Linked DNA regions of Homo sapiens: regions 2, 3, 4, 5 and 6 are each linked to region 1. Evidence: fine-mapped expression QTL. A gene starts in region 1. Each other region holds a variant in brackets. All regions are shown on one strand. Distances are between the middles of the regions. Region 1 holds the start of CLK4 (CDC like kinase 4). Region 2 has its middle 9.6 kb from the start of MSANTD5. Region 3 has its middle 18 kb from the start of MSANTD5. Region 4 has its middle 22 kb from the start of CLK4. Region 5 overlaps ZNF354A (zinc finger protein 354A). Region 6 has its middle 28 kb from the start of MSANTD5.

What was found.
Region 2: its variant is fine-mapped to the expression of CLK4 in whole blood (INTERVAL, PIP above 0.99).
Region 3: its variant is fine-mapped to the expression of CLK4 in whole blood (GTEx, PIP 0.97).
Region 4: its variant is fine-mapped to the expression of CLK4 in fibroblasts (GTEx, PIP 0.96).
Region 5: its variant is fine-mapped to the expression of CLK4 in whole blood (TOPMed, PIP above 0.99).
Region 6: its variant is fine-mapped to the expression of CLK4 in whole blood (INTERVAL, PIP above 0.99).

The regions. Positions count from the first base shown.
Region 1 is chr5:178,624,668-178,628,757 of GRCh38, reverse strand. It overlaps CLK4 (CDC like kinase 4), which reads left to right and starts at 1,708. Exons shown (of 13, transcript NM_020666.3): 1 at 1,708-1,812. RefSeq lists enhancers at 1,740-2,349, 2,082-2,762.
Region 2 is chr5:178,686,090-178,690,179 of GRCh38, reverse strand. No RefSeq gene overlaps it. Among named protein-coding and RNA genes, the nearest start is that of MSANTD5, 9.6 kb to the left of the region's middle. The variant G/T (reference allele first, on the strand shown) is at 1,875.
Region 3 is chr5:178,677,843-178,681,932 of GRCh38, reverse strand. No RefSeq gene overlaps it. Among named protein-coding and RNA genes, the nearest start is that of MSANTD5, 18 kb to the left of the region's middle. The variant A/G (reference allele first, on the strand shown) is at 2,073.
Region 4 is chr5:178,646,743-178,650,832 of GRCh38, reverse strand. No RefSeq gene overlaps it. Among named protein-coding and RNA genes, the nearest start is that of CLK4, 22 kb to the right of the region's middle. The variant T/A (reference allele first, on the strand shown) is at 1,920.
Region 5 is chr5:178,725,807-178,729,896 of GRCh38, reverse strand. It overlaps ZNF354A (zinc finger protein 354A), which reads left to right. Exons shown (of 5, transcript NM_005649.3): 2 at 824-907; 3 at 2,772-2,898. The coding sequence starts at 875. Among named protein-coding and RNA genes, the nearest start is that of ZNF354A, 2.8 kb to the left of the region's middle. The variant G/A (reference allele first, on the strand shown) is at 1,804.
Region 6 is chr5:178,667,484-178,671,568 of GRCh38, reverse strand. No RefSeq gene overlaps it. Among named protein-coding and RNA genes, the nearest start is that of MSANTD5, 28 kb to the left of the region's middle. The variant C/T (reference allele first, on the strand shown) is at 1,793.

The sequences.
Region 1 (4,090 bases):
TCTCCTACTCCATGAAACAGGAGAACATTCTTTGGTGCCAGCTTGAATTTACATTCTCATATGCTGCAATTTGAGCCCCACTCTACCTTGTATTATCGCCCAGACCAGTCAGCTCAACATTCTATCTAATAGATTCCCTTGAGACGGGATGTGTAATCAATTGTAGAACCAATACATTTCACTCTTTGGGCAAAATCTGTTAGCATACCAGGTGGCTCCAAATACTCCACTATTTGAGGACTTCACATCTAACTGGAGTAGTCAGGAGCCGGGAAATGGGTGGGAACTCATGTCAGAGACAGCATCTTAAAGAAATGGCCTTTCAAGGATGAGTAAGATTTAAATTTGTAGATGCAAAAATGGTGGCTATTCTAGATGAAAATAATATCATTTGTTTCATTCTGTAGCATAAAGAGTTTACCCTTCCAGTTTTCCAAGTTTCTTTTCAACTTCGCTTCTTGGAGTGCAATCTCCATGAAAATTCAACTTACTTTTTGAAATGCTGTACAATCTCCGAGATTTATCTAAATTTACCCTACTTACCCAAACCAGATGGCACAAGTTTCTATCATGTTAGATCACTAAAGGTATTTCCGTTCCCTCCTTTCACCTAACAGGATAACAGGTCTCCCACATGCTACTGGGCTAATACCCGCAAGAGTTCAACCCTACCCTCCCAAATTTGATTTCTAGCTTTCCCTTTTATCCAGCGAATCCCCGTCAGAATACAGAAGCCAACCCCCACCCCGCCCGCCGTCCCCCCCCACGATCTTCAGTCTCACCTAAACCCTTTCCCTCACTTACGCCCTTCCTTGCTTTGACACCCTATTCTTGGTTCTCCTCCTCTGCTGATCATTCCTTCTCAGGCCCCTTTCCCTCTGGCCCTTGAGTGTTCCCCACAGGGCTCCGACTTTGACCCTAATATTTCTCATGTTACATACTTACACGGGGGAACTGCCTGAGGGTCCTCAGAACTGCAGAATACCTTATTTGAGGTAAGCAAGCCCCATAACGGACTATCACTAGCTCAGAGACATTTTTCAGCCTTGAATAAAATCAGCCCGCAGGGACAAAAAAAAATGGGGAAAACTTCGTTAGGGAAACTTCCAGCGACCTTAACTGCTCAGGAGGTAGGGATCCTAACAGGAAAACCTTGTCAGGAGTCTCCATTGAAACCTCCGGGTTTTTGTTTTGTTCTGAATAGGAGCACGTGCCTTGAAAAGATTAGCACCCCTTGAGCTTGTTTTCTGAGACAGCCTCTTTGTCCGAATCCACCTTAGACTGGAAGCGCCAAGTGGGCAGGACAAGCACCCAGTCCAGGGAACAGCCCAGGGACCAGCCAAGGCCCGCCCTAGGCGGTTTTGGGGCCGTTGTCGGGTGCCGGCTGCGGGAGTTGAGGTCCCGGGGGAGGGGGCAGACACGCGGTACACACTGAGGGCGGGACACGGGCGTTCCTTCCCGGTTCCACCCGAGCCCGTAGAGAACGTAAACACCCTCCCGGCCTAGAGGCCCCGGGACCGGGTGGGCGGGGGGGGGGGGGTGGAAATGCTTGGGCCGCGCAGCCGCAGTGTGGAGGCTCGAGCCCCGCTCTTACGTCACGTGGAGCCCCGCCCTTAGGTGGAGCGGCGGGAGCGCGCAAGGTTCTGTCACGCAGGCGCGTTCGCGCGGCGTAGGTGGTGCTAGAGGCGACTCGGGGGATTCTAGGGCGACGGCGCTGCCGCCATTTTGTGGGGTGTTTGTCGCAGCGGCCGAGGAGGGAAGACGGCAGTTTGGCGACATTTCTCGGCCGAAGGGCCATTTGCTTTTGCGGAGGTAGGGTTGCAGATGGTGTGTGCTGGGACAGGCGGCTGTCGGTCTTTAGGTCTCCGAGCCAGGTGTCGGAGAAACGACCGCGTTAGGGGCCTGGGCTTCTGGAGCTGAGTTGGGAGTTCTGCGAGGCGCTGCTCGGCTGGTGCACGCCGGCAGCACCGAAAGTTGCTCGGGCGTCGCGGTTCTGCCGCTGACCCTTCTCTGAGGGCCCTGGCCGCTCGCGTCGCGGCTCCGGAGGCCGTGGGCTCGCGGTCCCCTGCTGCCTGGCGAGCGCGGCTGTTGGTTAACCCTGTCGGGACCTCTTCCAGCCGGCGGGCGCTAGGACCTGTCGGGAGACCCTTCGAGAGCCGTCTCTGGCATTCGTGTTGTCGGAGATCAAGTCTTCCCCTGGATTCCTGGCCTGGGCCGTTTGTAGCGTTTCGGGGGTTTTCCAGAGTCAAGCATTTGCCCCTGTCTTGAGTGCGCCAAAGGCACTGGCCGGGTGCCCAGGAGCCGGGAGGTGGGGACCGGGCGTCCGTGCAAATCCAGGTGGTTGAGGGCAGTAGCTGCTTGTGAGAGGTGGAAATTTGCGGAGGCTAGTCCTCTGTGCTATGCTGAACACAACATTGTTGCAGCGAACCTGCGTTTCTGGTGGTTTTGCATCTTATTATCCCTGGTTGCCTAAATAGTCCAGATAGGCTTATCCGATCCTTAGGAAACCGCCCCGCAAACTGAACTCGCCAGCCACTTTGTCTTGCCTCATAGCTGTCCTGTGCGATTGTGCTTTTTACACACCCCTACAGGCTTGTAACCCATTAAATGCAGTCCTCTTGGAGCCATCCAATCCTAAACTTATAACCTGTTTCGATGTTTTTAAGCCATGTACGTAGCGTAAAGTTGTCAAGAACTACAGGATCTTAAGGGCAGTGGCGATGGATCTACATATGAGATCCATTGTGTCATTATTTTTTGAAAGATACCTACTCTAGCATGTGGGATGCTTTATTAGAGGCAGTGTCATGATTCTAGATAGCTTTTCTTTTTTATGTATGCGAAGGAACCTTACCACGTAGAACGTGGGTCGGGTGATCTTTGTGCCTCCAGATAAAATATTTTTGAACATTGCAGGGTGAGTGGGGGAGGTCAGAGGCTGGGACTAACAGCTGAATTACATTTGAAGTAGTGAACTTGAGAAGAATTTTGGACTCTCACAACGGAGCTCGTTCTTATTTTAATGTTTGCATATTAACTGATAATTTGAGAGTTCTGTTTTGCTGGAGGTTAGCTGGTTGTAAGCAGACTTACAGTAGAAGAGGAAAAAACAAAACTGAAGAAGATACATAAGTCTTGAAAAAAACTTCATAGTAATGGAGGGTCATAATAATAACGCTCGGTCATCAGATGTGATTTTGCTTGCTATGATTTAAAAATGCTTAACCAAGCTGAGTTCCTGATGTGGTTAAAATACAACTTTGGTATTTGACGGAACGCTTCAGAAGAACTGCACTTGAAATACACATTTTCTTTTTTTTTTTTTTTTTTTTTTTGAGACAGGGTCTCACTGTCGCCCATACTGGTATGCAATGGCGTGATCATGGCTCACTGCAGCCTTGACTTCCTTGGGCTCCAGTGATTGTCCCAGTAGGTGGGACTACAGGCTCGAGTCACCATGTGCGGCTAATTTTTTGTATTTTTTGTAAAGGCAGGGTTTCGCCGTGTTGCCCAGGCCAGTCTCGAATTCCTGGGCTCAAGGGATGAGGCGCCACTGCGTCCAGCCATAAATTTTTCTTGATAGCTCTAATGAAGAAAGTTTGTGTTTTGGCCTTTTGCCTCAAGTAAATGTGTGCTGTTATTCATGTCACGTTCCCATATGGAAGTGACTCCATTTGTATCAAACCGGAATGCTCACTTCCATTGAGACGCTAACAAGAGTTTTAGAATTGCTGTTTGGCCTGATCAGTGCCTTCTCTTCCTCTGTAAAGTGAGCTGAGAGCCACCTTAGAAGGATGCTTGATGGGTATAGAATTAGAATCAGCAAGAGAGTGAATTAAAATATCTGACTATCTGGTGGCAATCAGACTCTGATGGCGTGACACATACTTTCTTGTGGAATACCTCCCAGAAGAATTGAAGCTGCCTCACTCCAAAACCTTTAATCCATTTAAAATCATTTAAATTTCTGCTTGCATTTGTTTGCTTATTAGTCATTTGGGCAAGCTGAATGAGGTTAACTGAGTGGGTTTTACTCCATTTTAGCTTTTTTCAGCTCCTTGCTGAATTGTGAAATTCTTCTCTTTTTACC
Region 2 (4,090 bases), 61 kb before region 1:
TCGATACCTTTTTTTGAGACGCAGTCTCGCTCTGTCACCCAGGCTGGAGTGCAGTGGCGCGATCTCGGCTCACTGCAAGCTCTGCCTCCTGGGTTCACACTGTGACATGGGGCTGGAGAGTTGATCTAAACTGAGGGAGGACAGTGAAGGTGTCCCTGGCCAGCTGAAGGCAAACTGCTTCAGGTGGGCCTTCTGGACAGGGATGGAGAAAAAGGTGTGTGTCAGATCAATAGTTACATACCATGTACCAGGATATGTGTTAATTTGCTCAAGCAATGAAACAGCATCTGGTACAGCAACTGCAATTAGAGTTATCACTTGGTTAAGCTTCTGGGAATCCACCATCATTCTCCAGGATTCATCTGTCTTCTGCACAGGCCAGGAGAGTTGGACAAGGATGTGGGGTAGGAATCACCACCCCTCCATACTTCAAGTCTTTGATGATGGCACTCATCTATATCATTCCTCCAGGAAGGCAGTATTGGTGTGTTTTTTGTTTTAGTATTTTTCTAGGTAGAGATGGCTGTAACGCCTTCCATTTGTCCTTTCCCATCACAATTGCCCTCACTTTATAGCTCAGGGAACCCGTGTGGAAACTCTGCTAGCTGCTGAACACGTCTGTTCCAACTACACATCTGGACCCGGGAAATGACCAGAGAATGGGTTCCGGGACCCGCTGGGCCCACGGTGAGTTGGACCTGAGTTAAAGCTCCTGGTACCAAGATATGGAAAAACCTCTTTGACTGTCTTATTTCACTGGAAAACAGTATGGAGTTTACTCAAAAAAATTAAAAATAGAACTACCACATAATTCAACAGTGCCACTTCTGGGTATGTATCCAGGATCTGGAAGAGAGATCTGCATCTCACGTTCATTGCAGCACTATTCACAGTAGCAAAGATACGGAAACAATCTAAGTGTCCACTGACAGGTGAATGGATAAAAAGAAAACTTGACACACATACACACACAGCGGAATATTATTCAGCCACTTTAAAAAAGAAGTCCTGCCTATCAACAACATAAATGAACCTAGAGGGCACTATACTCAGTGAAGTGTGACAGAGACAGACAAATACTGTATGGTATCACTTATATATGGAATCTAAAAAGAAGAAACATTTCCAACTCATAGAAGCAGAGAGCAGAGCAACCTGGTGGTTGCCGGGAAGGGAGGTGGGGGAGGAAATGGAGAGATCTTGATCAAAGTGTACAAACTTTCAGTTATAAGATGAAGGAATTCTAAAGATCTAATGTACAGCACGGTGAGCATAGTTAATAATACTATATTTTATACTGAAGCTTGCTAAGAGAGTAGATCTGAAGTGTTCTCACCGAAAAAGGGAGGGGGTAAGTGTGGGAAGTATTGGGTAAGTGCTGTGGTTTGGATATTTGCCTCCAAATCTCATAATGTGAAATGCAATCCCCAGTGTTGAAGGTAAGGGCTAGTAGGTGTTTGGGTCATGGGCGTGGATCCCTCATTAATGGCTTGGTGCTGTCCTTGAGGTCATGAGTGAGTTCTTACTCTATTAGTTACCAAGAGATCTGATTGTTTAAAAGGGCCTGGCATCTCTCTCTTGCCTCCTCTCTTGCCATGTGACATGCCTGCTCCCTTTTTGCCTTCCACCAACAGTAAAGCCTTCCTGAGGCCTCCCCGGACTCCCAGCAGTTACTGGTGCCGTGTTAGTGCAGGCTGCAGAACTGTGGGCCAAATAACCTGTTTTCTGTATAAATTACCCATCCTCAGGTATTCCTTTACAGCCATGCGAAACAGACTAATGCAGCATGCTAATTAACTTTATCATGGTAATAACTTTATTTTATTATTTATTTACTTAGAGTCTCATTTTGTCACCCACGCTGGAGTGCAGTG[G/T]CACCATCTCAGCTAACTGCAACTTCTGCCTCCCAGGTTCAAGCAATTCTCCCATCTCAGCTTCCTGAGTAGTAGCTGGGATTAAAGGCACATGCCACCACACCTGGCTAATTTTTTGTATTTTTTTGGAGAGATGGGGTTTCGCTGTGTTGCCCAGGCTGATCTCAAACTCCTGGCCTCAAGTAATCCTCCCGCTGTGGCCTCCCAAAGTGCCGGGATTACAGGTGTGAGCCACCAGGGCTGGCCAGGGTAATCATTTTAAAGTGTTAACATATGTGAAATCATCAGTTGTACACCTTAAATAGATACAATTTTCTGTCAATTATGCCTCAATAAATTGAAGAAAATAATTTTTTTCTGGATATATTTTCTGAAAACTAAAGTGATTTAAGTTACATAAACAGAAAATAGTATCAAACTGAAAATAGACCCAAATTTTAACAGTTTTTATTTTACTAGAAATAATACTCTTTAGTTTTTCATTTTGTTTTTATATGATCATATATTTCTTTCTTTTCTTTTTTTTTGAGACAAAGTCTCGCTCTGTCACCCAGGCTGGAGTGCAGTGGCGCGATCTCAGCTCACTGCAAGCTCCTCCCACGTTCACGCCATTCTCCTGCCTCAGTCTCCCGAGTAGCTGGGACTACAGGCGCCTGCCACCATGCCCGGCTAATTTTTTGTATTTTTAGTAGAGACGGGGCTTCACCATGTTAGCCAGGATGGTCTCTATCTCCTGACCTCATGATCTGCCCGCCTTGGCCTCCCAAAGTGCTGGGATTACAGGTGTGAGCCACCGTGCCCGTCCATAATCATATATTTCTATCAAAGTAGAGGGAAATCCGGCCAGGTGCGGTGGCTCATACCTGTAATCCAAGCACTTTGGAAGGGCGAGGCAGGAGGATTAACTTGAGCTCAGGAATTCAAGACCAGCCTGGGCAACATGGTGAAACCCCGTCTCTTCTAAAAAATAAAAAAATTTAGCCAGGCGTGGTGGCGGGCACCTGTAATCCCAGTTACTCTGGAGGCAGAGGCGGGAGAATCGCTTGAAACCGGGAGGCGGAGGTTGCAGTGAGCTGAGATCAGGCCACTGCACTCCAGCCTGGGTGACAGAGAGTGAGAGCTTGTCTCAAAAAAAAAAAAAAAAATGTTGAGGGAAATCAAATATACTCAAAACCTTCTCTTGTAGCAGAGTTCATGAGAGGAAAAAAAAGAAAAAGAAATTTTTTTTTGCACAGAGTCTTGCTCTATCACCCAGGCTGGAGTGCAGTGGGGCGATCTCGGCTCACTGCAAGCTCCTCCTCCTGGGTTCACGCCATGCTCCTGCCTCAGCCTCCCGAGTAGCTGGGACTACAGGCGCCCGCCACCACGCCCGGCTAATTTTTTTGTATTTTTAGTAGAGACGGGGTTTCACCGTGTTCGCCAGGATGGTCTCGATCTCCTGACCTCGTGATCTGCCTGCCTCGGCCTCCCAAAGTGCTGGGATTACAGGCATGAGCCACTGCGCCTGGCCCAGAAAATGAAAAATTTTAAAAATTATCCTAGAAATTGTCAAATAGCTGATTTCAGACCAATTATCTTGCTAAAGAAACGTAGAAAAGTCAGTCAAAACAGAAAACATATATTTTTGAAGGAATTAAGGAGCTCTTAAGGCAGCCAAGACGTTGATGGGGCTTCTTTTTTTTTTTTTTTTGAGATGGAGTTTCGAGCCCAGACTGTAGTGCAGTGGCGTGATCTCAGCTCACTGCAACCTCCCTCCGCCTCCCAGGTTCAAGCGATTCTCCTGCCTCAGCCTCCGGAGTAGCTGGGATTACAGGCATGCACCACCATGCCCGGCTAATTTTGTATTTTCAGTAGAGACGGGGTTTCACCGTGTTAGCCAGGATGGTCTCGATCTCCTGACCTCGTGATCTGCCCGCCTCGGCCTCCCAGAGTGCTGGGATTACAGGCGTGAGCCGCCGCGCCCGGTCACGTGATGGGGCTTCCATCACAGACAGGAGGGAAGCCCTGAGAAGCCAGCCTGGCCTTTGGAGTGACTTCTCCCCTGTGAATATTTGCCGCTTGGAAAGCAGGAGCTGAGAGGCAGAAAATCTGTGCACAGTAGAGACAAAAGCCGGAGTTCAGGGGCCGATAACACCGCAGGTATTTAGCTGTGAGCCTTGTAGGTTTACACCCTAGCAGCAGGGCTGAGCTTGACATACAGTGAAGACCAATTTGGA
Region 3 (4,090 bases), 53 kb before region 1:
CCCGTCTCTACTAAAAATACAAAAATTAGCTGGGCGTAATGGCAGGTGCGTGTAGTCCCAGCTACTCAGGAGGCTGAGGCTGGAGAATCGCTTGAACCCAGGAGATGGAGGTTGCAGTGGGCCGAGATCACGCCACTGCACTCCAGCCTGGGTGACAGAGCAAGACTCCGTCTTGGGAAAAAAAAAGGCTAAACTCATAGAGACAGAGGGTAGAATGGCGGTTGTCAGGGGCTGGGGGGCGGCGTAAATGGAGGTGTACTGCTCAGCAGGTGTACAGTTTCGGTTATGCCAGATGAGTATGCTCTAGACAGCTGCTGCACGACACCGTGCCTATATTGACAATACTGTGTTGTGGGCTTAAACATTTGTCAGGAAGATAGATTTCATGTTAAATGTTCTTACTACTTTTTTTTTTTTGAGGGGACAGAGTTTTGCTCTTGTTGCCCAGGCTGGAGGGCAAATGGTGCGATCTCGGCTCACCAAAACCTCCGCCTCCCGCCTCCCGGGTTCAAGCGATTCTCCTGCCTCAGCCTCTTGAGTAGATGGGATTACAGGCGTCTGCCACCATGCCAGCTAAATTTTGTATTTTTAGTAGAAACAGTGTTTTGCCAGGTTGGCCAGGCTGGTCTCGAAATCCTGACCTCAGGTGATCCACCCGCCTCGGCCTCCCAAAGTGCTGGGATTACAGGCATGAGCCATGGCACCCGGCCTTTTTATGTTTTATTTTTTTTGAGATGGAGTCTTGCTCTGTCCCAGGCTCAAGTGATCCTCCCGCCTCAGCCCTTCGGAGTAGCTGGGACCAGAAGTGCATGCCACCGGGCCTGGCTAATTTTTTCTTTCTTCTTCTACTTCTTCTTCTTTTTTTTTTTTTGTTTTTTTTGGTATTTTTGGTAGAGATGGAGTTTCGCCATATTGCACAGGCTGGTCTCGAACTTCTGAGCTCAGGCGATCCACCCGCCTCAGCCTCCCAAAGTGCTGGGATTACAGGCATAAGCCCCATGCCTGGCCTTCTTAGTACAATTTTTTAGAAACGAAATGAAACAATGTCCCTAGATTTTTCAATGAATGAAAGCCATAAATTTAGAGAATCACATTACAGGATTAAAGGAAACCTCACTTAGGCACATAATAGTCAACCTACTACAAACCAAAGATAAAGACAAAATGTTGAAATCAGCCAGAGGGAAATGGCACATGTCATACAAGGAAACAATAAATGAAAATTACCACTGACAGTTCTTTATCAGAGGGCAGAAGAGTTGGGTAGACCTCTTTAAAAGAGCAAAACTGTCAATCAGCATTCTATATCTAGTACAATTATTCTTCCAAACTGAAGAGAAAATAAAAATACTTTCAGGTAAAAGAAAACAAAGATGATTTCTTGCCAGTAGAGCTGCATTGTAATAAATGCTAAAGGAGGCTGGGCGTGTTGGCTCACACCTGTAATCTCAGCACTTTGGGAGGCCGAGGCGGGTGGATCACGAGGTCAGGAGATCGAGACCATCCTAGCTAACATGGTGAAACTCCATCTCTACTAAAAATACAAAAAAATTAGCCAGGTGTGGTGGTGGGCGCCTGTAGTCCCAGCTACTCGGGAGGCTGAGGCAGGAGAATGGCGTGAACCCGGGAGGCAGAGCTTGCAGTGAGCCGAGATCACGCCACTGCACTCCAGCCTGGGCGACAGAGCGAGACTCCGTCTCAAAAAATAAATAAATAAATAAATAAATGCTGAAGGAGATATTTTAAGGAAAATGAAAGTAGATGCAACAAAGCACAACAAAACGGTAAATCTATGAGTAGATATTTTTAAATTGTTCTCTTAGTTTATCCAAAATTTATATAAATAAAAAAGTATGGTATTGTATTGTGGTTATACATGTAACTGTGGTAATTTTTTTTTTTTTTTGAGACAGAGTCTTGCTTTGTTGCCCAGGCTGGGGTACAGTGGCGTGATCTTGGCTCACTGTAACCTCTGCCTCCCCAATTCAAGCAATTCTCCTGCCTCAGCCTCCTGAGTAGCTGGGACCACAGGCATGCACCACCATGCCTGGCTAATTTTTTGTATTTTTAGT[A/G]GAGCTGGGGTTTCACCATGTTGGCCAGGCTGGTGGTCTCGAACTCTTGACCTCAGGTGACCCACCCACCTCGATCTCCCAAAGTGCTGGGATGACAAGCATGAGCCACCGCACCTGGCCAACTGTGGTATTTATAATAACTATGTTATAAAGGATGGTGGTCAATGGAACTATAGAGCTGTAGGGTCTCTACCTATGATGTGAAGGTGGCATAATGTCAACAGTTATACTAAACGTTCTAATCAGTAGGCACAGATTGCAGTAATGAGTGAAAAAGGAAAGACTCAACCATTAGATGTCTATAAGAAATCTGCTTTAAACATAGGCATAGATATTTGAAAGTAAATGGAAGGAAATCTATAAACCATATAAACATAGCATATAGGCAGGCGTGGTGACTCAGACTGTAACCCCAGCACTTTGGGAAGTTGAGATGGGAGGATCGCTTGAGCCCAGGAGTTTAAGACCCACCTGGGCAACAAAGTAAGACCCCATCTCTACAAAAAATTTTAAAACATTAGCTGGGCGTGGTGGTACATGGCTCTGGTCCTAGCTACTCAGGATGCTGAGGTGGGGGCATTGCTTGAGCCCAGGAGTTTGAGGTCGTAGTGTGCAATACCCATACCTGTAAATAGTCATGGCACTTCAGCCTGGACAACATGGTGAAACCTTGTCTCTACAAAAAATACCAAGATTAGCTGGGCGTGGTGGTAGTGCCTGTAATCCCAGCTACTTGGGAGGCTGAAGTGGGAGGATCGCTTGAGCATGGGAGGTCGAAGCTGCAGTGAGCCGAGATGGTGCCACTGCACTCCAGCTGACAGAGTAAGACCCTGTCTCAAAAAACAAACATAAGCATAATATACCTAATACTAATATCAAATAAATTTTAAGGGCTGGGCACAGTGGCTCATGCCTGTCATCCCAGCACTTTGGGAGGCTGAGGCAGGTGGATCACCTGAGGTTAGGAGTTCGAGACCAGCCTGGCCAATATGGTGAAAGCCCATCTCTACTAAAAATACAAAAATTAGCCGGTCGTGGTGGCGCCTGCCTATAATCCCAGCTACTCAGGAAGCTGAGGCAGGAGAATTGCTTGAACCCGGGAGGTGGAGGTTGCGGTGAGCAGAGATCACACCACTGCACTCCAGCCTGGGCAAGAGAGAGTGAGACTCTGTCTCAAAAAAAAAAAAAAAGGGACTTTCAGATAAAATATGTTGTTAAAGACAAATATTTTATAATTATAAGAGGATCAGTTGACTAGGAAGACGTATCAGTCATAAATATGTATCCATCTAATAACAGAGCTTCAAAACACATGATGAAAATGGAGAAGGTCGAGAGACGAACTTCTGAAATGGCTGAGTTAGGAGCCCCACCAATCATCTCCACAAGAAGCAACAATATAACTAGATAAAATTGGCAAAAACAGCTATTTAAATGCTGAAAATGTACCAAAGGGGAACAACAAATTGAGAATCATTTACTCAAGAAAATCTACTGACGTTTGGTCAGAAGATAGAGAGTCTAGGAGTTCTCCAATCACTGCTCCCCTTCCCCTGTGGTATGGATGTTCTATCCAGCCGCAGGCCAGGTCCTAAGGATCGGGAGCTCTCCTGTCTGTCCATAGCAGAGCATGGAAAATTCAATGCCCAAGGGTGTTGTAAAAAACAATAGGGATCTTAGTGGCAAACAGTCACATAAAGCCAATATTGCAGCTATCCTGAGGTCAAGATATTGGTTGGGACAAGCATCCAAATGGCAGGCCAACCAGGAATTTAACAGGGATAGCCAGTGGACGAGACAGCCAAGGAGGGACGTTTCAGATCCAACTTACCCCGAGGGTCTGGAAAGATGTGTATACACTAAGTCGTGCTAGTTCAGGGCAAGTGAGGGAAGGCCCCAGTGATGGGTAAGTATGGGGTGTTAAAAGAAAAGCTTCAGCCAAATTAATTTAAAGAAGTTTAATTGAGCAATGAACAATTTGTGAATCAGGCAGCCCCAGAATCACAGCAGATTCAGAG
Region 4 (4,090 bases), 22 kb before region 1:
CAGAGTCTCAGTATGTTGCTCAGGCCAGTCTCAAACTCCTGGGCCCAAAGTGCTGGGATGATGGACGTGAACCACTGCACCCTGCCTTTGGAGCTTTTTAGAATGCAGACTCTCAGGCCCCAACTCATACCTACTGAGCCAGAACCTGGATTAACAAGATCCCTTACGCTTCATGTGTAGATTAAGTGTTGATCTAGAACAATATTTTTCAAAGAGCTTATTCGTGACTCATGAAATCATTTAGCCTGTTGTGACCAGCACTTAAAAGAAAGACAGAGAGAAGGAAATGGAAGAGGAGATAGAGAGGAGAATCAAAGCAAATCAAGAGGCGAGAACACATTGCACACAGAAAGGATCCGTATTGCTTCATGGACGTGTGGTTTCCAAGGTCACCATAGCAGAAGAGGAGAAAAGGAGGCCAAACACTGGCTCTTTATTGCCTCAACCTGAAAGTGATGCACCCACAGGCCATTGGCCAGAACTAGTCATGTGGATTCAGCCTCACTGCAAGGAAAGCTGGGAAATAGAGGCACTCATGGACGTTTGGTGAATACTAACAACTCTTCCACAGCCTGTGTGCTGGTTTTGTCTGTGAGGGCTGCTGTGGGATCACTAGCCAGGGAAGTAGTGCCTGGCACAGTCTGCCCTCATTAAATGTTTAGTGAATGAATAAATGTATATTTCCCATTAATTGAGATAGATGCGGAGATTACAAAAACAAATCTGATGTGGTTCCTGTTTTCGATGAGCTCTCAGGATTCTTCTTTCTTTCCCTCGTGTTTTAGGGGGAAACTGGCCTCTCTCCTCTTCAAAAGCTCCACTTGCCACCTGTGCCTCCCCTAAGAATGTCCTTTGGCCCTGTCTCCATCAACCGTCACTGTCTCCCTGACGACCCCCTTCCTCTCCACTGACAGGTTACCTCCTCTTGCTCTCCAAGCAGCCTCACATCTTCTCAAACCTGAAATAACCTCTCAGCATTGCTTCCCCTTCATCACTTTGCAACTCCCAATCACCCTCAACATACCACACCCAGGATCCTGGCCTCATCACTCGTACTTGATTAAAAATGCTTCCTCAAAGCTACTGGTGACTTCCTAATTTTTTAAACAGCTTCACTGAGCTGTATGTTTCATATACCATACACTTCACCAATGTGAAGTTCACAATTCAATGGTCTCTAGCATGTTTCTCTCACCACAAAAAGGAACCCCACACCCTTTAGCTTTCACTCCCCATACTCCCATCCTCCTCCCCTGACCCTAAACAACCGCTAATCCGCTTTCCTTCACTGTAGATTTCCCTGCTCTGTACTTTCATATGAATGGAATCATACCATGTATGGCCTTTTGTGACTGGCTTCATCCACTCGGCTTAATGTTTTCCAAGTCCATCCATGCTGTGGCATGTGTCAGCACGTCATTCCTTTTTATGGCTGAATAATATTCCACTGTGTGGAAAGACCACATTTTGTTTATCCATTCATCCATTGATGCACATTTGGATTGTTACACTTTTGGACTATAATGAATAGTGCTGTTATGAACATTCATGTATACGTTTTTTGTGAACATGTTTTCAATTCTCTTGGGTATATAACAGGAGTGGAATTGCTGGGTCATATGATAACTGTTTAATCATTTGAGCAACTGCCAGACTTTTCTAAAGTGGCTGCACTGCTTTACATTCTTATCCATGTGTGGAGGGTCTAATTTCGCTACATTTTTTTTTTTTGAGACAGAGTCTCACTCTTGTCGCCCAGACTGGAGTGCAGTGGCGTGATTTCGGCTCACTACAGGCTCCCCCTCTCGGGTTCACACCATTCTCCTGCCTCAGCCTCCCGAGTAGCTGGGACTACAGGCGCCCGCCACCACGCCTGGCTAAGGTTTTGTATTTTTAGTAGAGATGGAGTTTCACCGTGT[T/A]AGCCAGGATGGTCTCGATCTCCTGACCTCGTGATCCGCCCGCCTCGGCCTCCCAAAGTGCTGGGATTATAGGCATGAGCCACTGCGCCTGGCCTAATTTCACTGTATTTTGCCAACGCTTGATATTATCTAATTTTCATTCTAACCGTTCTAGTCGGGGAGGGAAAATTGTAGCTCGTTGTGGTTTAAATTTGCATTTCCCTGATAACTAGGGACTTTCTAATTTTTTTTTTAAAGTAGAGATGGCATCTCACTCTGTCACCCAGACTGGAGTGCAGTGGCACAGTAACAGCTCACTGCAGCCTCGACCTCCTGGGCTCAAGCAATCCTTCCACCCCAGCCCCCTGAGTAGCCGGGACTACAGGCATACTGAGCTAATGGACTTCCTAATTTTTTAAATCACTATCTTCTTATTTCCTATCTAACATAGTCTTCCTTTAGCTTTTCACACCACTCTTGATGCAATTCAGTTCCCTCCCTTATGCAGCTCCTGAGGTCTGCTCCTCTCTGGCATTCCCTTCCTGACTTTCTGGCCTCCTTCACGGACTCTTATTTCCACCCCACAAATTCTGTTGCTCCCAGGGCTTCGTCCTCAGCCCTGTTCTTGCTCTGCTGTGACCCTGCTAACCCTGTTCACCCCTGTGCCTCTCACCAGCACCCACATGGAAGACCCTTGAATGTAGACACTTCCCAGGTCTTAGTCCCCATTCCACTTCACACTATCCTTCATAGAAACTCAATGAAAAGTTCAATCCAATATCAATAAAGTGTCTATGACTAAGATGCACAGAAAATATTGTATACTATAATTAGTAATAATGATTCCTTCTTTCAAGTATCAGTTAAAAATAAGTAGATGGGCCAGGCGCGGTGGCTCACGCCTGATATCCCAGCACTTTGGGAGGCCAAGGCTGGCGGATCACTTGAGGTCAGCAGTTTGAGACCAGCCTGACCAACATGGTGAAACCTCCTCTCTACTAAAAATACAAAAATTAGCCAGGCGTGGCGGCGGGTGCCTGTAATCCCACCTACTAGGGAGGCTGAGGCAGGAGAATCACTTGAACCCAGGAGGCAGAGGGTGCAGTGAGCTGAGATCGTGCCATTGCACTACAGCTGGGTGTCAAGAGCAAAACTCCATCTCAATAAATAAATAAATAAATAAATAAATAAATAAATAAAATAAAAAATAAGTAGATGACTTGAGCCCAGAATCCCAGCTACTTGGGAGACTGAAGCGAGAGGATTGCTTGAGGACAGGCGTTCAAGATCAGCCTGGTCAACATAGTGAGACCCTGTCTCTACGAAAACTTTTTAAAAAAAAATTAGCCCAGCATGGTGGCACATACCTGTAGTCCCAGCTACTCAGGAGGCTGAGGCAGGAGGATTGCTTGAGCCCAGGAATTTGAGACTGTAATGAGCTATGATCATACCAATACACTCCACCCTGGGAAACAGAGAGAGATCCCATCTCTGAAAAACATTAAAAGGTAGATGGACACTAGTAATATTGAAAGAAATTCCCAGGGAAAAAGCATTGTATTATAGCATATTGTTTTCTCAGGTTCTTTATGGTATAAGGAGGCAGTTCACATTCTAGGCCAACGGTGAGTAAACTCGTGCTCAAAGAACCAGAGACTAAATATTTGAGGCTTTGCTGGCCACAAAGTCTCTGCCATAACTAATCAGCTCCACCTTTGTAATACAAAAGCAGCAGACGATGTACAAATGAATATGCATGACTATATATTTTTATCTTTTTTACTTTTTGCAAATTTTCAATACAGATAGGGTCTCACTATGTTGCCCAGGCTGGTCTCGAACTCCTGGGCCCAAGTGATCCTCCCACCTCGGCCTCCCAAAGTGCTGGGATTACAGATGTGAGCCACTGTGCCCAGCCATCATGACTATATTCTCATAAAACTTTAAAAACATCTGGCCAGCCAGTAGGCAGCACTTTATGGATCCCTGATTTAGCCATCACACCTGCGCTATACCCACGGGAGGAGGGCAAAGAACAGAAATGTACACCGTCTCCATTTAGGAACATTTCTACTTACTTGTTATTCCCTGGAACTAGTTACAAGGCCTTACCAATCTGCAAGAGTCAGAGACATACAATCTTTCGGCTAAGTGACTAGCAGCAGCTAACTATTGGGTAGGAGAACTACTAC
Region 5 (4,090 bases), 100 kb before region 1:
CGAGACTCCGTCTCAAAAAAGAAACATCGTGTTAGAAATGGGATACATGGGGTCGGGCGTGGTGGCTCACGCCTGTAATCCTAGATTTTTGGGATGCCAAGGCGGGCAGATCACCTGAGATCAGGAGTTCGAGACCAGCCTGGGCAACACGGTGAAACCTCGTCTCTACTAAAAATACAAAAATGAGCCGGGCGCCTGTAGTCCCAGCTACTCGGGAGGCTGAGGCAGGAGAATGGCTTGAACCCGGGAGGCAGAGCTTGCAGTGAGCCGAGATCCTGCCACTGCGCTACTGCACTCCAGTCTGGCCAACAGAGCGAGACTCCGCCTCAAAAAAAAAAAAGCCGTTTTCCGTGGAGTCGGGAGATGATTCGTTGGCGGGAGAGAGAGGAACCGGCTGGGAAAGGCTTGAGGCGGAGGGAAGTCGTCCCGGGGCCGTCGTGGTGGGAGTCCCGGCCCGCCTCGCAGCGGCGTGAACGGGGCAGGTGCCCCGGCGCTGCCTCAGTTTCCTGAGCGGTGCAGTGGGTGCTGGCAGTGCCAGCTGGCGCCGAGGAACTCAGCGGCGTGGGGCGAGCCCTGGCCCTGGTGGGCTCAGCGGGTCGCTGCTGCCACTGCGGCTCCAGCGTCCCCTCCGTAAGCCCCAAGCCTGTGGGGCCTGGGCCTGGCCGGGCGGCCCAGCGCTGCTCTGGTCCGCGGGCTCCTGGCTCCTCCCGAATCCCTGTGAGGGCGCGCGGGGTCCTTCTCAGCGGGAGTCGGGGTTTTAGAGCTGCGGATTCCAGGGCTGGAAAGCAGAAGGGGTTCTTCCTGGCTCCCTTTTTCTTCTCAGATCTGCCTTCTGGAGACTGCGCCGTCCTCCCGGGAGAGCCAGAAAGAGGACATGGCTGCTGGGCAGCGGGAAGCGAGGCCCCAGGTGAGCTCATTGCCCTCCCAGATCCCAGTGGATGGATTTTCCCCACTAACTGGAGTTCTTCACCCGGGACCATCTCCAGCCAGGATGGAGCCCAAGTCCTTTTCTCTTGGAGGAGCTGGTCCGCCCTCATGAGTGGTGGATTCTGTAGGGAGGACCACCCACCCTCCCCACCCGTGTCTAGTGGTTCTCTTTTTTTTTTTTTTTTTTGAATCTCGCTTTGTCGCCCAGGCAGTGGCGGGATCTCGGCTCGCTGCAACCTCTGCCTCCCAGGTTGAAGCAATTCTCCTGCCTCAGCCTCCCAAGTAGCTGGGATTACAGGCTCCCGCCATCACGCCCGGCTAAGTTTTTTTTTTTGTGCTTTTATTAGAGATGGGGTTTCACCACGTTGGCCAGGCTGGTCTCAAACTCCTGACCTCAGGTGATCCACCCGCCTCAGCCTCCCAAAGTGCTGGGATTACAGATGTGCGCCACTGCACCCAGCCCGAATAAATCATTTTCTGTACACATTTATTTGTGTGTGTGTGTTTGTGTATGCATGTTACCATCTATGTTACCATTTTAACCTTTTTTTATTGTGGCAAAATATATATAACATAAAATATACCATTTTAACTTTTTAAGTGTATAATTCAGTGGTATTTTAGGTACTTCCGCATTGCTGTGCAGCCATCATCGCTATCCATCTTTATTGTGTAGATTATCACATTTATTTCTTAACCCTAAGGGGCAGGCATTAAAAGGCAGTTTTACAGAGTAGTTAAGAATGCAAGCTCAGTGAGACATCTGCTGGATTTGAATTACACAAGAAAAAACAAAGTCACAGAGAGGATACAAAATTTGTAGAAGTCAGCCGGCCACAGTGGCTCACACCTGTAATCCCAGCACTTTGGGAGGTC[G/A]AGGCCGGCAGATCGCCTGAGGTTAGGAGTTTGAGACCAGCATGGTGGAACCCTGTCTCTACTAAAAATACAAAAATTAGCCGGGCATGGTGTCTAGCACCTGTAATCCCACCTACTCAGGAGGCCGAGGCAAGAGAATCATTGGAACCCGGAAGGTGGAGGTTACAGTAAGCCAAGATCATGCCATTGCACTCCAGCCTAGGCAACAAGAGCCAAACTCTGTCTCAAAGAAAAAAAAAAATGTGTACAAGTCACACAGCTGGTCAGTGACTGTGTCTGTGTGACCTGGACAAATTTCTTATCTTGTCTGTGACTTTGTTTTCTCTTGTGTAAAGTGGCAACAATAATGGTATCGTCTTGATAGGATTGTTGTGAATGTTAAATAAAGATTATACACTGCAAATTAACATAAAGCTCTAAGATCAATACTTGGCCCATAGAAAGCCTTCAATAAATTATAGCTATTTTACTTTTCGTCATTACTATCCTTAAGCTTGAGTAAGCACATAGAGAGTACCTTCAGTTGCTTAACCTAACCTCCATCATTAAGTATTTAGATTATTCCTGGTTTTTTGCTCTTAAAAACACCATGAATATGTTTGTGTGTACTTTTGTGCACTGTTCATTATCGTACAAATAGAGTAATTGGTACTTTAAAGAGTATACTTTGAGGGTTCTAATATGTATTAGCAAATCGCCATCAGAAAGAGTTTTCTAATTAACACTCCCACTAATGGCCGTAATTCCTCTACCCATCTCTTACAGTGGCTGCACTAGGCCTGAATCTCACTGTGTGCTGCTCAGTATACATTTGTTACTGGCCAATTATTCATTAAACGAATGATCTGGAACCTTCAGAAGCTTGAATAGTATGGGAAGTGTTTCACGGGTAGCGTGTCTTTCCCACTGCCGCCCCCTCTGCTCTGTGAGGGTGGTCCTGGGTGAGCTGGAACGACTTGTCCTTACAGGTGTCACTGACGTTTGAGGATGTGGCTGTGCTGTTTACCCGAGATGAGTGGAGAAAGCTGGCCCCTTCTCAGAGAAACTTGTACCGGGATGTGATGCTGGAGAACTATAGGAACCTGGTCTCACTGGGTAAGGAAATTTTCCCTCTAGAAACAGAATTCAAAAATTGGGATATCTCAGCACCTCCTTCCCTGAATAAAAGCGGTTGGTCACTGAAAAATTTGAGCTGAGTGTGTGAGGATTGTACAAATCAGATCTTTATAAATAAACATTAAAAACCTATTCCCCCTTATAGGCATGAAATTGCCCTGTGTCTGGGAATGGAAGAGGTGGTATTGATAATCATTCCTCTCTCTCTATGTAATCACACACTCCAAGTTTGTCCATGATTCAGGCATCGTTTCCCAACGATTCTGTAGTTTGCTTGTCTCCCAACAGGGAGCTTCATTCAGCCTCTAGGCCTACCACCTGCCTTTCCCACTTGTCTTTTCCAGGGATTAGCAAACTTTTACTATAAAAAGCCATGTAGGCTGGGCATGGTGGCTCACACCTGTAATCCCAGCACTTTGGGAGGCCAAGGCGGGCAGATCATGAGGTCAAGAGATAGAGACCATTCTGGCTAACGTGGTGAAAGCCTGTCTCTACTAAAAAACACAAAAAAAATTAGCTGGGTGTGATGCCGGGCGCCTGTAGTCCCCGCTACTTTGAAGGCTGAGGCAGGAGAATGGCGAGGAGCTTGCAGTGAGCCAAGTTCCCGCCACTGCACTCCAGCCTGGGCGACAAAGCGAGACTCTGTCTCAAAAAAAAAAAAGCCACGTAGTAAAGACTTTAGGCTTTGTGGGCTGCGTAATGGTCTCCGTAACATATTTCTCTTTTTTTTTCCCACCATTCTTTGCACAGGGCCATACATAAACAGGCAGTGGTCTGAATTTGGCCCATGACCCGTAGTTTGCTGATCACTGCCATCCTTAAAAGGGAGTCACATAGGCCGGGCGCGGTGGCTCACACCTGTAATCCCAGCACTTTGGGAGGCCGAGGCGGGCAGATCACAAGGTCAGAAGATCAAGACCATCCTGGCCAACATGGTGAAACCCTGTCTCTACTGAAAATACAAAACTTAGGCGTGGTGGCATGTTCCTGTAGTCCCCGCTACTTGGGAGACTGAGGCAGGAAAATCACTTGAACCCGGGAGACGGAGGTTGCAGTGAGCCAAGATTGCGCCACTGCACTCCAGCCTGGCAATAGAGCGAGACTCCTCCTCAGAAAAAAAAAGCGGAGTCAGATAGTGTTTTCTCGTTTTAGACAAGCTACCTGGTACATA
Region 6 (4,085 bases), 43 kb before region 1:
TTTGTCAACAACAGGGTTTTTACTTATTTGTCATTTACCAGTCCACACACTTCTGAAATGCAGCCAATCCATGATAGAAGAGCAGGCATCAGCCACAACCACAGTCTAGGCATCGTGCTAAAATTCCGACAACTCCTAAACACATCTGCCTCTGATGGTCCACAAATCCCTGAACTCCAAGTGAGATAGAAACCATTGTTCATGACAACAGATTCCTCTTCACTGCCCGGAGATCACTTAAGCCAGACTCCTCTCCACATGCCCTGTGGGAGAAAATGTGGGAAGCAGCTGTGTAGTGATTGCGAATATTTTTATCTAAGACAGACTGAACTCCAACTCAGTGGGTGTCCCAGAGTGTAGACGGGGCTATACTTTAGCCCAGCCCGGATCCCCAGCTCTGTGGTACGCAGCAATAGAGATGCTTAATTTGAAGTCTAAGGAATGCAGGTGGGTTGAAATTCATAACCCCCTCGAATCTATCTGCAAATCGTGTGTATATATGTGCAGTTTTCTGGCAAAAGATTTCACAGCTTTTATCACATTTTTAAGAAGTTAGTGCTTCCAATGGCTAAGAATGTCTCAAATGAATAAATGAATAAGCATATCCTGCATCTGCGTCTTCTAGGGTGCCACAAACATGGTTACTGAGTGTGGAATGCATTCACCCCTTCCCTTATCCACTCAATCTCACCGAGTGGCCCCCGCTGTGAGTTCACAAGGAGAGGAACTTTGGGGTCTAGGTGTGAGTCGGATGTGTGCCCTGTCTCCGGGGAGCATCAGGGAATCTGAGACAGAGGCTGAGCAAGGGAGCGACCAGAGCAGTCAGAGGAGAAAGGAGAGAGGTGGACGATGCCCACATGAAGAGGAGGCAGCATTTGAAATGGGCTTCGTCAGAAGGAAGTCGGGATGCCAGGCAGATATTCCTGGCAGAGTGGGAAGATACAGCATCTGTTCAGGGAAAGGAGGCTGTTCTGTTGGATCAAAGAACATCTTACGTGTCAGAAAAAAGCAGGAGATGGATATGGGATCAGAAGAACTGGATTCTAGCCCCAGTCAGCCCTAGCTTGTTGGGTGAGCTAGAGCCAGCCCTTCCCTCCCTGTGCCTCAGAGCCCTTCTGTGTACACTGGGGATGGTGGAACATGCCATCCCGAGAGCTCTGTGGTCTGTCCACTCAAGACAGCAGACTGGGGCTGTTGTTACTGCTATTATTACTGTCATTGCTCTTGTTCTTACTGCTGACCATGATGTCAAGTCTCTGTCAACTCAGCTCAGAAATTCTTACTGTGACCTCCAATGTGGTGTTGAAAAAAAAGAAATTCCTGTGACACCTCCACTTTGACGTCTAGACATCTCGAGCTCAGTCCAGAGCAAAACTGAGGGTCTTCCCCCGCAGACCTGCTGTTCTTGTCCACAGCCTTTCCTGTCCCAGCTGAAGGCAAATCTGCCTTTTCAGTTGCTCAGGCTGTGAACACTCGTGCCCTCTGATATTCCCGCAAGCATCCAGTCTGTGAAGGAATGACGGCTGGACCTTCCAGATATTTCTCTTCTCACCCCATCCACTGCTCCCCATCTGGTTCAACCCACGTCATTTCTCCCTGGCACTCTGTAACAGTCTCCTAGTGGGCTTTCCTGTGTCTACCTTTGTCCCTTAGTCTATTCCGTGACATGCTCAGAGCTCTGCACATTCTCCCCTAAATCAAGCAGAAACCAAAGCCCTAACACGAAAAATTTGTTCCACGTTGCCTTTGAATTGCTCCTTGACCACTCTCCCCTTTGTCCACTTTAACCCCA[C/T]GGGCTGCAGCCCCAACATACCAGGGAAAGTTCCTCGCCAAAGCCTTTGCTCTAACAATTCTTTCAACCTGGAATGTGTGTCCTCCAGACAGCGCCGTGGCTGGCTCTGTGGCTCGCTCCGTGTCTTCAATCCTCGCTCAGCTCTTGCCTTCCCACAGACCTTCTCTGACCACCCATTTCCATGCTGTCACTGAACCTGCCCCTCACATTCTTAGACCCCGTTTGTCACTCCTCTTCTTCTCTAAGCCCTTATCACCTTTTAGCATCACGCATTTTGTTCACGATTTATTTGCACTGTCTGTGTTTGGCCTCTCTTGCTAGGACATTAGCTAGAAGAAGAAGAGACATTTGTGTCAATCACCAGTGAGTCCCGGGCACCTGCAGGCTGCGTGGAATAAAGTAGATATTCAGCAAATATTTGTTGGAAGAGTGAATCAGTGAATGAGAAAGAGGAAACTGTTTAACAAGTGAATAAACTAATGGAATTAGAATTTGATAAATCCCTACACTTTACGAAGCTCTCCAGGAACAGCCAAGTTGAGAGCAGAAGTGAGTGGGAAGAGGCATTTTCATGTTGGGGTGATGCTCTACATGTTTCTTACATTGCTGTGGCACTCCATAAGACAAGGGCGCAACTGTAGCTGCAGGAGTTACATTCCCGAAGGCCGGAAGACAGCAGTGCTTGGTGCACTGGCGGATGAGCAAGGAAGTAAGTGTGGCTGCCCTGCAGTGGAGGGGAGAACGCTAAGAAACGAGGCCACAGGCTGTCAGGGCTCACATTTTGCAGAGCCACGGTGTTATGGGTTGAATTGTATCTTCCCAAAATCCATGTGTCAAAGTCCTAACCCTCCATACCTCAGAATGGGATCTTATTTGGAGATACGATCTTTACAGGGGTAATCAGATTAAAAGGAGGCTATGACAAAACAAACAAAAATGAGGCCATTAGGGTTGGCCCCTCATCCACTATGACTGTGTCCTCATAAAAAGGGGAAGTTGGAGATAGGGAGAATACCACATGAAGATGAGGGTGGAGATTGGGGTGTTGCCTCTAGAAGCCGAGGAATGCCAAAGCTTGCCAGCAAACCACGAGAAGCCAGGCAGGCGGCGTGGAGCAAATCCCCTCTCACAGAAGGAACCGGCCCTGCCATCACCTTGATCTCGGACTTCCAGCCTCCAGGACCATGAGACAACACATATCTGCTGTGTAAGCCACATGGTTTGTGGAACTTGGTGACAGCGGCTCTTGGAAACAAACACACATGGCAAGAAGTTTTAGATTTGCTAGGCGTGAGGAGGAGCCTCTGGAGGGATCAGGGGTGTGATATTTTATTATTATTATTATTAATTTGTATTGTGGTAAAAAATGCAGACTATAAGCCTTATCATCTTCACCATTTCTCAGTGTACATGCAGTGCAGCAGTAAATATATTCACACTGTTGTACAACCATCAGCACCATCCATCTCCAGAACGTTTTCCTCTTGCAAAACGGCAACTCTGTACTTGTTAAACAACTCCCTGCTCCCCCTGCCCCCAGCCGCTGGCAACCACCATTCTGCTTTCTATAGAATGCTCTGTGTTAGAATGCTCTAGGTATCTCATATAAGCGGACTTATACGGTATTTGTTCTTTTGTGACTGGTTCTTTTCACTTAACATCATGTCCTCAAGGCTTCTCCGTGTTGCGCCAGAATTTCCTTCCTTTTGAAGGCTGACATGTTGAAAGATTGCACCGACTGCAGTGTGAGAACTGGTGGGAGGCAGGTAGAGCGGTTGGGCAGCCTGTCGGAGCAATCGTCGCTGCCTCTTCCCAGAGCCCGTTGAATGTGGCTGTGGATGGTGAGTAGGGATGACAGCTCATCACTGCCCCTGCAGCTCCTTCCACCAGCTCCCTCTCTGGCAATGGGGGATATTCACGCAGGGTGAATTCTAACTCCCTCCTCAGACCAGCACCTGCAAGTCGATCTGGAGTTTCCTAACCTGTGCCTGAGCTGCTGCAGGTCTCTGCGTTGCTGGCACGTGCCAGCTTTCTTTCTGGGGCTTGAATTGCTCACTGCCTTTAGCCCCCTGTGATATATGTGACCACATCCCCACGTGGCAGGTCCTCATCGCATGAGTGTCACTGCGTCTGCAGCTCCTTGGTCCCAGTGGGATCTGGAACATGGCACTTTGTCTCCTGGGGCCCAGCTTTCCTCATTCAGGCAGTGGGCCTGTATCAGCACCGATTCCATGTTAAAGAAGAATTTTCCTTGCTCGAGTGTATGACTGCTTTGCTGAAGCTGGTAGACTTA